3 separate regions of the Homo sapiens genome follow, and regions 1 and 3 are each linked to region 2. The links come from fine-mapping of genetic effects on gene expression. A gene starts in region 2. Each other region holds a variant in brackets. All regions are shown on one strand. Distances are from middle to middle.

Region 1 (4,249 bases), 26 kb after region 2:
GCAACTTGATTCTTGGTGATAATGAGTCAACACTCAGGGAGAAAAAAAAAAGGATCATGGAAAAAGATGACACTATCTGAAAAACAGAGGATAGGATTTTGTAGTAGCATTTTCTGTCATTTTGCTCTTGTTTGATTGAAGAGACAATTCTATAATGATTTAAATTCATGTTCCCTCTTGATAAATGTTTCAGAGAAACCTTATATGATTGAAAATAGGTCAGCCAGTGTTGGTAAGTGATTTGCAATTGTTCAACACATTCCCATCGAAGTAGGTCAGATTAGTGTCCTGCTAAGCACGAGTATATTTGTTTAAAAAGGTGTTCAGTTCTAAAAATAAAAATCTATGTAACATTTGAATGAAAACAAGGAGAAAAAATTTAGAACTACATAGTCCTCCCTTTATACTGATTAAATATAAGTTACAGTCCATTCAAATGGAATCAGGTACAATGAGAAGACCAGACAGCTGGGCTTCAAGCCAGGATAGAAACAGATGAGATGATTACAATAACAGTAGAAATTGCCTTTAAAGCAAAATATCATTATTGTGGCATCAAATAATTCAGAATTTTAGTAAATCAGGTAACTTAGAGGGAAGTTTAATTAGGTACTAGCAATAAAGAAAACGATTCCAAGGTTAAAACACAGTTAAACCAACCAATAAACAAAAAACATGATAGAGCATGATTAAGAGATCAACTTATTTCACAAGTATTTGCAATTGCTTTAGAACCAACAACATTGATATGTGAATTTAATATTGTTATTTACTGCATTTCACTAACCTATGATGATATTAATTGTAAGGTTCATTTCAATCCCAAAGATGTTAACTCTGAAAAGAATAATCTTCTGAAAAAATGTTCTTTAATCAGAAAGCACATTTGTCATCCTAGTTCTTATTATCATATATGTTTGATGTTTGAAGATAATAGAATTGTACAATAGAATTGTACTTCTTGGAGACTATTATATTGCTTATGCCATTGCTGTGAAGTTATGAGAGAGGGACACACATGTTGCAAAGCATATGTCTCGTGTGTGACAAATTTGATGTTTTATCACAGGGTGTCCCGCCCAATCTGTGGCTCACACTATGTCCCCAGTACTGTTTGGCTGCATTTCCAGAAGCCAGCAACAGGACTAGAATCCATGTTTCCAATGGACCCTTTAATTCTTGAGAAGCTGTGGAGGAGATAGAGTGACACTTTATCTCTTTGGTCTCTTCTTAGCTTGTAGCGGCTAATGCCTTATGACGGAAGAGTGAGCCTGGACACTTACTGCCTAGTTCCAGGTCAGTATTTGGCTGGAAAGAGAAGTTACTATGGATCAGAGGCTGTGGTTCTCCTAATTGCTCTTAGTAATGGCCATCACCACTTCATCCATGCAGGCTTGGGTACTTCCTGTCTACTTGGTGGATAACATTTGATTCCTAAAGATGGAGTGAGAATGACATAAAGTTATTTGCCAAGGAAGAGCAAATGTTTACACTTACTTGACACCTGAAACCCTTAGAATGCTAACTGAAGCAGACTTTCCTTAGCTAACTGTAGGTAAATATTATACTACCCACCAACACTATTGTATGAAAGATTACTGCAGGTAACAAGAAAAATGAGACAAGGAAGACTGTCTTTGTGCTAATCCATGGTTAGAACCTTCCTTTAGGAAGGAATCTTCTTAGAAGAGAAGGAAGCACATAGTAGATGTTTTGGATATCTAGATATCTTACTACTTTTCAATTTCTCATAAAAATAAACATTTTGGGTGACAGCACCTGATGTATCAGATTATGTATTTGTTTAGATCAAACAGCTTTGTCATTGAAGTGAACTAAGATCTGTTCCAGAGCTTCCAAAGAGAAAGAATTGGAAACCTATGCTGTTTTTCATTTCTGAAATGGTTAAAGCATTGCCCTGGACTATAAAACTGGGACTGTGGCTTGGAAACAATCTTTGATATTATCTGAAAATCTTCAAAACAAAATGCAAGTATGGCCGTATTTTTTTTTCTAGCTGATCTGCCATATGTGTATTTTGGCTGTCTGTCTGATTGTGCTCAGATGTGGGTAGTGGTAGGGAGGAAAAAATAATGTTTCTTAACTCTGAGGATAAAAAGACTTCAAACTGTGTGCCTCTCACATCCTTTGGTAATCTGCCCCACATTCTGCACCGTGATGTGGGATATAGATACTGCTAATTTGGTGTTTATTTCTTCGGAGTGGGGGTTGGGGAGTAAAATGGGGAGAACAAGCATTAAAGAGGAAGGTGTTGCGGATAGGTGGCAGTTTCTGAGCTCA[A/G]TGAAGAGGAGTCAGGTGCTAACTCTCAAAGCAGAACTCAAGGAGCTTTAATCACTATTATTACTTAAGTAATAATAGACACTATAAGGTGCCTGCTGTTAGAAGTAACTGATATGGGGTGATCCCAGATCATCACCTTCCTGGTCATTATTAAAATATCAATCTTCACTGTCATTTCTTTTTTCTACTCAGAGCAATGAAACTGAGAGATACTATGTAGGCAGCAATGATCTAAGCAGGAATTCTCAAACCTTCATCTCAAAGTCATTTGAAGTAAGTTAAGAAGGAGGACATGTTTTGAGGACATTGAAGTCTCATGTTTTACCTTAAAATGTGTGTGTGTGTATATATATATATATATATATATATATATATATATATATATAGTGCTTGATGGCATATATAGGTTTCTTAAAAATAAAAAGAATAAGATGGCTGGGCGCAGTGGCTCACTCCTATAATCCCAGCACTTTGGGAGGCCAAGGCGGGTGGATCACCTGAGGTCAGGAGTTCGAGACCAGCCTGACCAATATGGTGAAACCCCATCTCTACTAAAAATACAAAAATTAGCCCAGCAAGGTGGCATGTGCCTGTAGTCCCAGCTACTTGGGAGGCTAAGACAGGAGAATTGCTTGAACCCAGGAGGCGGAGGTTAGAGTGAGCTGAGATCTCGCCACTGCACTCCAACCTGGGTGACAGAGCAAGATTCCGTCTCAAAACAAACAAACAAACAAAAAAAAACGCCAAGGTTTTCCAATTTCTCTCTCTCTCTCTCTTTTTTTTTTTTTTTTGAGTTGGAGTCTCACTCTGTTGCCCAGGCCCGGGTACAGTGGTACGATCTCGGCTCACTATATCCTCTGCCTCCCAGGCTCAAGAGGTTCTCTTGTCTCAGCCTCCTGAGTAGCTGGGATTACAGGTGTGAGCCACCACACCTAGCTAATTTAGTAGAGACAGGGTTTCACCATGTTGGCCAGGCTGGTCTTGAACTCCCGACCTCAAGTGATCGGTCCACCCTGGCCTTCCAAAGTGCTGGGATTACAGACATGAGTCACTGCACTAGGCCCTCAATTTCTTTATGTATAAAGATACACATACACCCCTAATTTTACATGAATGTGATATTAAACATGCTATTCAAATGCAGTTTTCCTCTCATTTTTTTTGTTTGTTTGCCCTTTCATGCACAATAATCTTTTATCCTCTAAATTCAGGCTAATAACTTAGAGCATATCTTACATATTTTTCTATATGCTGACAGAATCATATATAGCATATACACATCTATGAGTATAGACACTACACACATTCATATATGGAAAGACAAACAAATGCATTTAATTTTTTGTCTTTTATTTTGCAAAAAGAGGATTATATAATATATACTTGCCTGAGTCTAGCTTTGCACACACAACAACAATACATTCTGGAAATCTCTAAACGAACCAGTTATCTCTGAAATCTTATTCTCTTTTTAAATGATAGCACAGTGTCCCATGTTATAGTTATATTACAATTAACTCAATTGCTTCCTTTAAGTAGGGCTTTGTTTTCTACTTATTGGGAAAAAAGCATTGATAAATATATATGACCTATATATTTATTAATATATTTATATCTATCTATCTATCTATTGTTTTCCTATGGATTAGATCCTCAGTAATGAGATTTTTGGGTTGAAGACTTAAAATATTTTTGATTTTAATGGGATTTTCTAAGCTTGCTTCCAAAAAGCCTGTATTAATTCACATTTCTACCAGCATGTATTAGAGTAAGTATAATGTTTAAAGTACTTGTTATTCAAAGTATCGTTCATGGACCAGAAGCAACAGCCTCAGCTGGGAGTTTGTTAGAGATGCAGGCTTGCAGCCCCATTCCAGACCTACTGAATCAGAATCTGCATTTTAATAAGATCTTTGGGTGATCCATATGCACTTTACCATTTAAAAAT
Region 2 (4,218 bases):
TAAAAATTTAAATTGTGTGGAATATGTATCATAGGCAAGCCAGTGTCATCTAGAAGTCTTCTTCCTACTGAATGGAGTTAGTTGATTAATAGTGTAAATGATTTGGATTTTTAAAAAGTATCCCTTTCTTCTCTTGATCATCCTTGTGATGATCAGAAAATTGACAACTTTCAACAAGCAGCAACTGAATGTGAATTCCTATACCCCAAACTGGGAAGTATTTTGACGTAATCATGTGAATAGGGTAATTATACATCTTCTAAAAAATCTGAAACTTAAAAAGTTGGAGTGAAAACCCAGCTTTCAACTAGCATTCTTATATATTTTAAAAATAGTATGATCACCAGGGTGAACTAGTGAGTATAGATGACATGAAAGAGAGTAAGATTTATGTTTCCTGCCTCCCATCAGTCTTTGTGGAAATCCAAGGCAAAGTTTAGCATAGAATAATAATCATCCCCCATAAAGTGAGTCATATACTGTAAAAAATGTCAAACTCTCTGACAATTCCCTTAATGAGAAAATTCTAGGGATTTCCATCCTTCGTAATTACATGACTCAAAATGCATAAGCTGAGTCATTAGGCTGATGTGTTTGATATTGTCTATAGCCAAATAGTTTTTAACTCTTAAAGAGAAAGGGCTTAATTTGCAGGAGCAAGTTGATGGTCTAAATTCCCACATGCCTCCTGCTGCTGTTAGAAGCTTCTGCCTAGTTTTGTTATAATTACAATGTGTTTATGTATGGGCAGGGTTGGCTTCTCGGTACTAAGTTTTTTAGATCCCAAAAAGAATTATTACATATGGCCAATTTGTTGGTGTGGAGGCAATTCAGTGTATTTCAATGAGTAAACTCATTTAGATCTTTCTCTAGTCAGTTATTTACTTAAAATCTCACATAAATCTCTCAAAACTAAAGTATTTTGAAAACACTTTCAAAAGTTATTGGATGTCTACTATATTCTAGCCACTGATTTAGGTGCTGAGGATATAGCACTGGTCACTGAAGACAAAGCTATTGCTTCTGTACATTACCTTATCCTGAAAGTTATGCTTTCAGGATTTCTTAAAAAGTCAAACAAAATGAATCCAGTTTGATCTCCTGACAAGGTAAAATTACTTTGGACATTTTCCTACAAGTACAGTCATAGCATCTACATGAGCATTCTTTTTGTAAGAGCAGAGTAATCATTCAACATTTAAGATCTACACTTGGGAGTGAAATGCATTCCTTCTTGAGAATACTGAGGTCTTATAAACCACCCATAGTATTGATCCCCTGCCCCCTGTCATGGTGGTTAAACATTAAAAAAAATGACTGAATATGTGGGAAATTCTCAAACTGCATTCAAACCCAGTGCCTGACTCAGGTCTGTTAGGGAACTGAATAACCTGAAACCATGCTACAGATAATCCAAAATCCATAAGAAAACTTAGAAATGACTCACCATTTTGAGCATAGCCACTTTCTCCAGAAACGACTTGAAGTAAAGAAAAAACCATGCCAAAAGTTGTACCTAGAATTGTCATTCTGAGAGAGATAGAGAGAGAGAGTAGATGTGTGAGCCAGTGTGTATGAAATGAATGAGAGTAAGAGGAAGGGAGGGAGGGAGGAAGACAGAGAAGCTTAGATCTAGGGCTTTATACTTATCTAACCACAGACAAGGGAAGTATAAACACAGCAAAAAAGAAGGCAAGTTCCAGAAACAGGAAGTCTGAGTAAAAGTATTGCTGCTGTAAGCAGAGGTCAAGGACATGAAGAGACAGAGCCTCTGAAATTATTGTTCCTCCTGGATATTCCCTGCAGCCCCCACACTTACTGTGCTTACATCAGAGTAAGGCAGTAGATTCACACCTAGGCTCAAGCTATCTTAGGCTAGAGGCTACTTTATTTTTTTAATTTTTATTTTTTTGAGACAGAGTCTTGCTTTGTTGCCCAGGCTGGAGTACAATAGCATGATCTCGGCTCACTGCAATTTCCACCTCCCAGGTTCAAGCAATTCTCCTGCCTCAGCCTCCTGAGTAGCTAGGACTACAGGCAAATGCCACTATGCCAGCCTAATTTTTGTGTTTTCAGTGGAGACGGGGTTTCGCCATGTTGGCCAGGCTTGTCTCGAACTCCTGACCTCAAGTGATCTGCCTGCCTCAGCCTCCCAAAGTGCTAGGACTACAGGCATGAGCCACCGCTCCTGACTAAGGGCCCACTTTAAAAGAATCTGAAGACAAAAATTCAAACTTACAAAGTGAATCAATTGGTTGTTTGGAGTGAGTTTTGATTTAAAGAAACAGTCTGCACTATGTGAAGTACTTTATTGTGGGTTTATTTTAAATAGCTTACCTCCAACTTCCAAGTTTCACAAGAATAGCAGTTTTTCTCTTTTGTTCTCTGTGTATCCCTGGTATTTACTCATATCTTACACACCACAGTAGGCATTCAAGAATTATTTGTTTAGGGCAGGGGCTGGCAAACTATGACCTAGGGAACAATTTTTTAAAAAATTATTCATTTATTTTTTCTTTTTCAAAAGATCTTTTTTTTTCCCAAGTAAGCCTTGGGACCAAATTTAATCTACCACCTGTTTTTGCAAATAACGTTTCATTGGAATACAGCCTCACCCATTTGTGTATCATCTACAGCTGCTTTTATGCAACAATGGCAGAGCTAAGTAGATGAGATAGAGATTGTATTGTACAAAAGGTGTAAAATCTTTACTATCTGACCCTTTGTAGAAAAAGTCTGCTGACCTCTTGTTTAAAGGATAAAGTAGGTACTTTCTTAGTGTATTTAAAACAGGATTCTATTTGTGAAAATTTGATTGCCACACAACTTTTCAGGTACACATAGTACATATGAACTAAATTAGTGCCTAGGTATATGGGGCAGAAATCTGAGACCATGGCATAGAAAATTCAGACTCCCCCAAACCTGAATGCCAGTCAAAAGCCTTCCTAATATGGCCTCATGGTTAAAGTGGTGATATTTGTAAAGCCTGACTGCTTCTTGGTAACTGTTAGATTTTTTTTTCTTTTTCTTGAAAAAAATAATCTAACCTGGATTCAGGCCATAAAACTCTATGCTTGATTCACAGTGGCTCTCTTTTGGAAAAATGCCACAAGACTGCAGTTATAAGGTGAGGAGTGCAGAGAAACTAAGTGATCAGTGAGTTATGAACTTCTGTTGGATTCACTGTCATTAGGTAGAATTGCTCCCATGGGCCTGTGAAATGGCTAAAATTAGCAGAGACAAGCAACAACCCCCCAGGTGTAAAGCAAATCGAAGAGACTTTAAAAGACTCATGATTTAGCTTGTCCCATCATTACAATTATTTGACAATAACGAAGTAACAAAAAAAGGAGGTGGGACATTTGTACCAGTCTCTGGATCCTCCTTTTCAGTTTTAAGACAGACTCCGTCTGCACCAGTTATAATGCCACACTTTGGAGTATAGGCTCAAGGAATACTTCGGAGCAAGAATCCAACTGAAGGGGACATATTCCATCTTCTCCATTTGTCAGGGCCTTCTCTGGGCATTTCAAAACCCTTCCAAGCCAAATAAAGAGTGACAATTTTGTGCATCGATAATAATTTATGCCCTCATTTCTAATCTTGTTTTGAAAGCTTGGTTAGAAAATTGTAAGCCTGATTCACAAAAATTGGTATGTTTTGTACACTGAGCTAAATACCCTTTCAAGAAAGCTATAATTACAGATTCCCATGAATTAAGCTAATGTTCAAGGAGAAATCCCAAATTATATCTATCTACCAATGCAAATCTCCTAAACTGCTAACAGATTGTCACTTCATGGGTGAGTAACTGGGTTATGTCTCTTTAAATTCTCTTGTTTATCATTTAAGTGGACTATCATTTTGATTGTATCTCTTTCCTTTAGTTGTGAAGATGTAAAAGAACAAAGCCAAGACACAATATTTTGGTACAGCATGTGCTGGTTTGTTCTGGGGATTTCCACAGGGGTGCTTACTCTTGGGTGGGGCAGGAGATGCTGAAAAGACCTCAGAGAGAAGCCTAAAGTGTGGGGAGCTCAAAGAAAAATGACATGCGTCACCAGTCCTTCTAGAGATTGTGGGGGAACAACAGTGCCTTCTCTCTTTCCTCACTCAGGTCTTGTTAGTCCTTTGGAGACTTAGAAAAGCTGAGGAAGAACCACCTAGTTCACCCTATCCCCCAGGTAACAAACATTTACTATATTACTTTGTCAT
Region 3 (4,249 bases), 63 kb before region 2:
ATACTAACCTGTGAATCAAGGAGACCATACCCATTACTGGTAAGAATCATTAAGGATCAAGTGCTGAAAATCTCATTCAAGACAGAAGCAACAAAATCAATGTTTAGACCAAAGAGGAGAACATTAAATGTGAGGGTCAAGGGAATATGGAAAATTCTACATAAAATAATATGGTATATAATGTTGGTTCAAAAAAGAGAGTATAGAGAAATTGCACTTCTTTTATGGATGGAAGAGGGCTTCAGAAAGATCAAAACATCTTGGGAAATGGTGATATATTTAAGATTATTGTCTAGGCTGGAGAAACCAGATGTCCTCAGGACTAGATAAGTAAGTTATAAATATGCCAGGCACACAGTTGGCATAGAGAAAAATTGGAAATTCTGAGAGGTTTCCTGACAGAGAAGGCTGTAAATTTCCTTCTCAGTGAGGCTTCTGTCACTCTGCCCAGCCAGAGGCAGCGGCGAGGCCTGGACTTTGCTAACATGCTATGGCTTCCCCTCAGATGGCAGGGACAGCGCGCCATGACCGAGAGATGGCGATCCAGGCCAAGAAAAAGCTCACCACGGCCACCGACCCCATTGAAAGACTCCGACTGCAGTGCCTGGCCAGGGGCTCTGCTGGGATCAAAGGACTTGGCAGGTAGGACCCAGCTACAAGTGGCAGGGAATGGAGCGGGAAGGAATGACTCTGCCAGGTGAGGCTAATGTTGGCCACGTGGTCTTGGGGAAGTCATCTCCTCCTAGGGGCTCAGTTCCTTATTTGTAAAATGTAGAGTTTAGAAGAGTTGATCTATGAGGTCCCTTGTGACAGTTTTTGGATCTTAGTCCCAGATTCGGCAAGACTCATATCTGCTACAAGACAGTGCAGCTCTGGGAAAATATGAGGTAAAGGGAGAAGCAGCATGTGCCCTGGCATGGAGATGCCTACCAGGACAATGAGAGGGACTCTCTCTGCAGCTGTGATAATAAAGGCCAGGGTGGAAGAGGGAGGAAGGAACAGCCAGTTAGCCCTAATTGCAGAATTTGGAATTTTGCTCTCGGGCAATCATTTCTCCATCACTTCCAGGGACACTGGTATTGCTTGTCAGATAACTGATAGCTCACTGCCAATGGGGTTCTCTCAGCTGGGTAGCTCCTGTTCTCCCACCCTCTGTCCTCTGAGTGTGAATAGTTTTAAGGACTGAGAAACCAAAAGGGAAAGGAGATTGTGAGCCTCCTGAGGGCAGGTCCTGTGCATTATAAGAAACTCCATCAAGAGCCTGCCATGGGCCAGGCATTGGACACATCTCAGGGACCCGTGGGTGAACAAGGCTTCTTAAGCCCCCATGGAGGACTAAGACTATGGACAATATGAGTGATCTAAATGGCATCTCAGTGGTGTGAGAAGTTGTTTATTAGAGAAGTACAGGGTGCCAATGGGAGGGAAATCTAGCCTTGGACCCAGAAGATGCGGAAGGCTTCACTTCCAGCAAGGTACTGAGTGCCTGGGAGAAAACTCTGAACAGTCCCAAGTCTCAGACTAAGCCCAGCTCTGTCAGAAGGCCAGGCAGTGGGGATATGGACCCTGGTGGCCAGGCTGCCCCAGTCCAATGGGAAGACCAGCACCCATGCCCTCAATATTGTGTCACTTCCACCTCTATCCCATTCATCATGGGTCCACATCATTGTCCTTAGTGCAAACCCTTGAGGAATCCTCTCTTCCACTCTCTGGTTCACTCAGTGGAATCCCTCCTGCTACCTGTGCCATCTTCACCCCATACCCACTGCACACTGCGTCTCTACCAGCCTTTCCACTGGGAACCAGTCTACAGTCAATGGACACCGTTCCATCCTAAGCCTTTTGCAGAATGTGCCATCTGCCTCACTTACTGGCCTTGGCCTTCTCTAAGTAACTCCTAACTCAAGTGGAAGCTGCCCCTCTCCTCCACTCCTACCTTAGGGTCAGTTGAAGACTGAACACTCTCCTTCAGTCTAACTCCAAATCCCAGGTCATACACACCCCTTTGTTCATTTATTTCTTTCCCATAAATCCTGTCTTAGAAGGGCATCTCTTCAGGTTAGGCTCTGCCATCATCCCCCCTGCACAACATTTAGCATTCTGTGAAGCATTGACTCCCGGCACCATCTTTCCACCCTGAGTCTTTATCCTGACCAAGATCAAGATGACTTTGTTATTTATAACCTTGGCACCTTCATTTTTTGACATGAAATTCTTGTG[G/A]TTTTCAACAGTATACGTTCTTTCTTAGTCATTTCCAATTGCCTTGTAAATGTAGATACTTCTCTAGTATCTAAATTCTCAAGATTCTTTTGCTAGTATCCTTAATTTATCAGACAACTTGGCTACTCCTGAGTTAGCACATCTGTACCTTGGCCCCTTGCCACGTTCTTGGAATGCTATCCGTTCCTGAGATCCAAACTAATTTCACAATTTTTATATATATATATATATATATTTTTTTTTTTAATCAGGAAAGATACTAGCTAACCAGTGAATATCTCTATATAGTTGACTTAGTATCCAATCCAAACAAAACAAAAGTCATTTTTTTTGTTTTTTGTTTTCCAAATAGAGCTTCTTCTGCAGCCCCTACGGTTTTAACAGTATTACTACTCTTCCAGGTCTTTGGGTTGAAAACTTTAGAATTATCTTCATTAGCCCACCATATTGACTCCTTTATTTCTATAATATCTTGAAATCTTTATTTTTCTTATTTTCATCCCAATTGCTCAAGTGTAGACACTCAACATTTTTTTCACTGGACTCTTATGATAGTATTCTTGCTGGTTCCTTTGCTCCTAAGTTTTCAGTCCTCCAATTCATTCAACCCATTATTGCTAGAGTTCTGTTAGCTCTCTTATGGGTAAAGTTCTCATTATTTTGATAATGTCACTTCAAGTCAACCATTTAATGACTTTAAAAATGACTTGCTAATAAAGTTCAAATTTTTAGCATTTAAGGACATTTAAAAGTCTTTAGATTCTGATTACTCCAACTTTCCATCTTTTAAAAAAATTATTCTTTAAGTGCTGGGATACATGGGCAGAACGTGCAGGTTTGTTACATAGGTATACATGTGCCATGGTGGTTTGCTGCACCCATCATCCTGTCATCTACATTAGGTATTTCTCCTAATGTTATCCCTCCCCTAGCCCTCCACCCCCTGAAGTTCATGTTCCACTGTGTGATGTTCCCCTCCTTGTGTCCACGTAATCTCATTGTTGAACTCCCACTTACGAGTGAGATCATGCGATGTTTAGTTTTCTGTTCCTGTGTTACTTTGCTAAGAATTATGGTTTCCAGCTTCACCCATATCCCTGCAAAGGACATGAACTCATCCTTTTTTTATGGCAGCCTGATATTCCATGGTGTATGTGTGCCACATTTTCTTTATCCAGTCTATCATTGATGGACATTTGAGTTGGTTCCAAGTTTTTGTTGTTGTGAATAGAGCTGCAATAAACATATGTGTGCAAGTGTCTTTACAGTAGAAAGATCTATAATCCTTTAGGTATATATCCGGTAATGGGATTGTGGGGTCAAATGGTATTTGTGGTTCTCCATCCTTGAGGAAATGCCACTCTGTCTTTCACAATGGTTGAACTAATTCACACTTCTACCAACAGGGTAAAAGCATTCCTATTTCTCCACATCCTCTCCAGCATCTGCTGTTTCCTGACTTTTTAATGATCACCATTCTAACTGACATGATTTGCATTTCTCTAATGACGATAAGCTTTTTTTTAAAATTTTATTATTATTATACTTTAAGTTTTAGGATACACGTGCACAACGCGCAGGTTTGTTACATATGTATACATGTGCCATGTTGGTGTGCTGCACCCATTAACTGGTCATTTAGCATTAGGTATATCTTCTAATGCTATCACTTCCCCCTCCCTTCACCCCACAACAGGCACCGGTGTGTGATGTTCCCCTTCCTGTGTCCATGTGTTCTCATTGTTCAATTCCCACCTATGAGTGCGAACATGCGGTGTTTGGTTTTTTGTCCTTGCAATAGTTTGCTGAGAATGATGGTTTCCAGCTTCATCCATGTCCCTACAAAGGACATGAACTCATCATTTTTTATGGCTGCATAGTATTCCATGGTGTATATGTGCCACATTTTCTTAATCCAGTCTATCATTGTTGGACATTTGGGTTGGTTCCAAGTCTTTGCTATTGTGAATAGTGCCACAATAAACATACGTGTGTATGTGTCTTTAGAGCAGCATGATTTATAATCCTT

Evidence for each region. PIP is the estimated chance that this variant, and not a neighbour inherited with it, causes the effect.
Region 1: its variant is the best candidate, but not a certain one, in a credible set for the expression of IL7R in whole blood (INTERVAL, PIP 0.60).
Region 3: its variant is the best candidate, but not a certain one, in a credible set for the expression of IL7R in fibroblasts (GTEx, PIP 0.80).

The regions. Positions count from the first base shown.
Region 1 is chr5:35,828,693-35,832,941 of GRCh38, reverse strand. No RefSeq gene overlaps it. Among named protein-coding and RNA genes, the nearest start is that of IL7R, 26 kb to the left of the region's middle. The variant A/G (reference allele first, on the strand shown) is at 2,302.
Region 2 is chr5:35,854,289-35,858,506 of GRCh38, reverse strand. It overlaps IL7R (interleukin 7 receptor), which reads right to left and starts at 1,616. Exons shown (of 8, transcript NM_002185.5): 1 at 1,448-1,616. The coding sequence starts at 1,529.
Region 3 is chr5:35,917,377-35,921,625 of GRCh38, reverse strand. CAPSL (calcyphosine like) reads left to right here. Exons shown (of 5, transcript NM_001042625.2): 2 at 506-642. The coding sequence starts at 506. Among named protein-coding and RNA genes, the nearest start is that of CAPSL, 19 kb to the left of the region's middle. The variant G/A (reference allele first, on the strand shown) is at 2,221.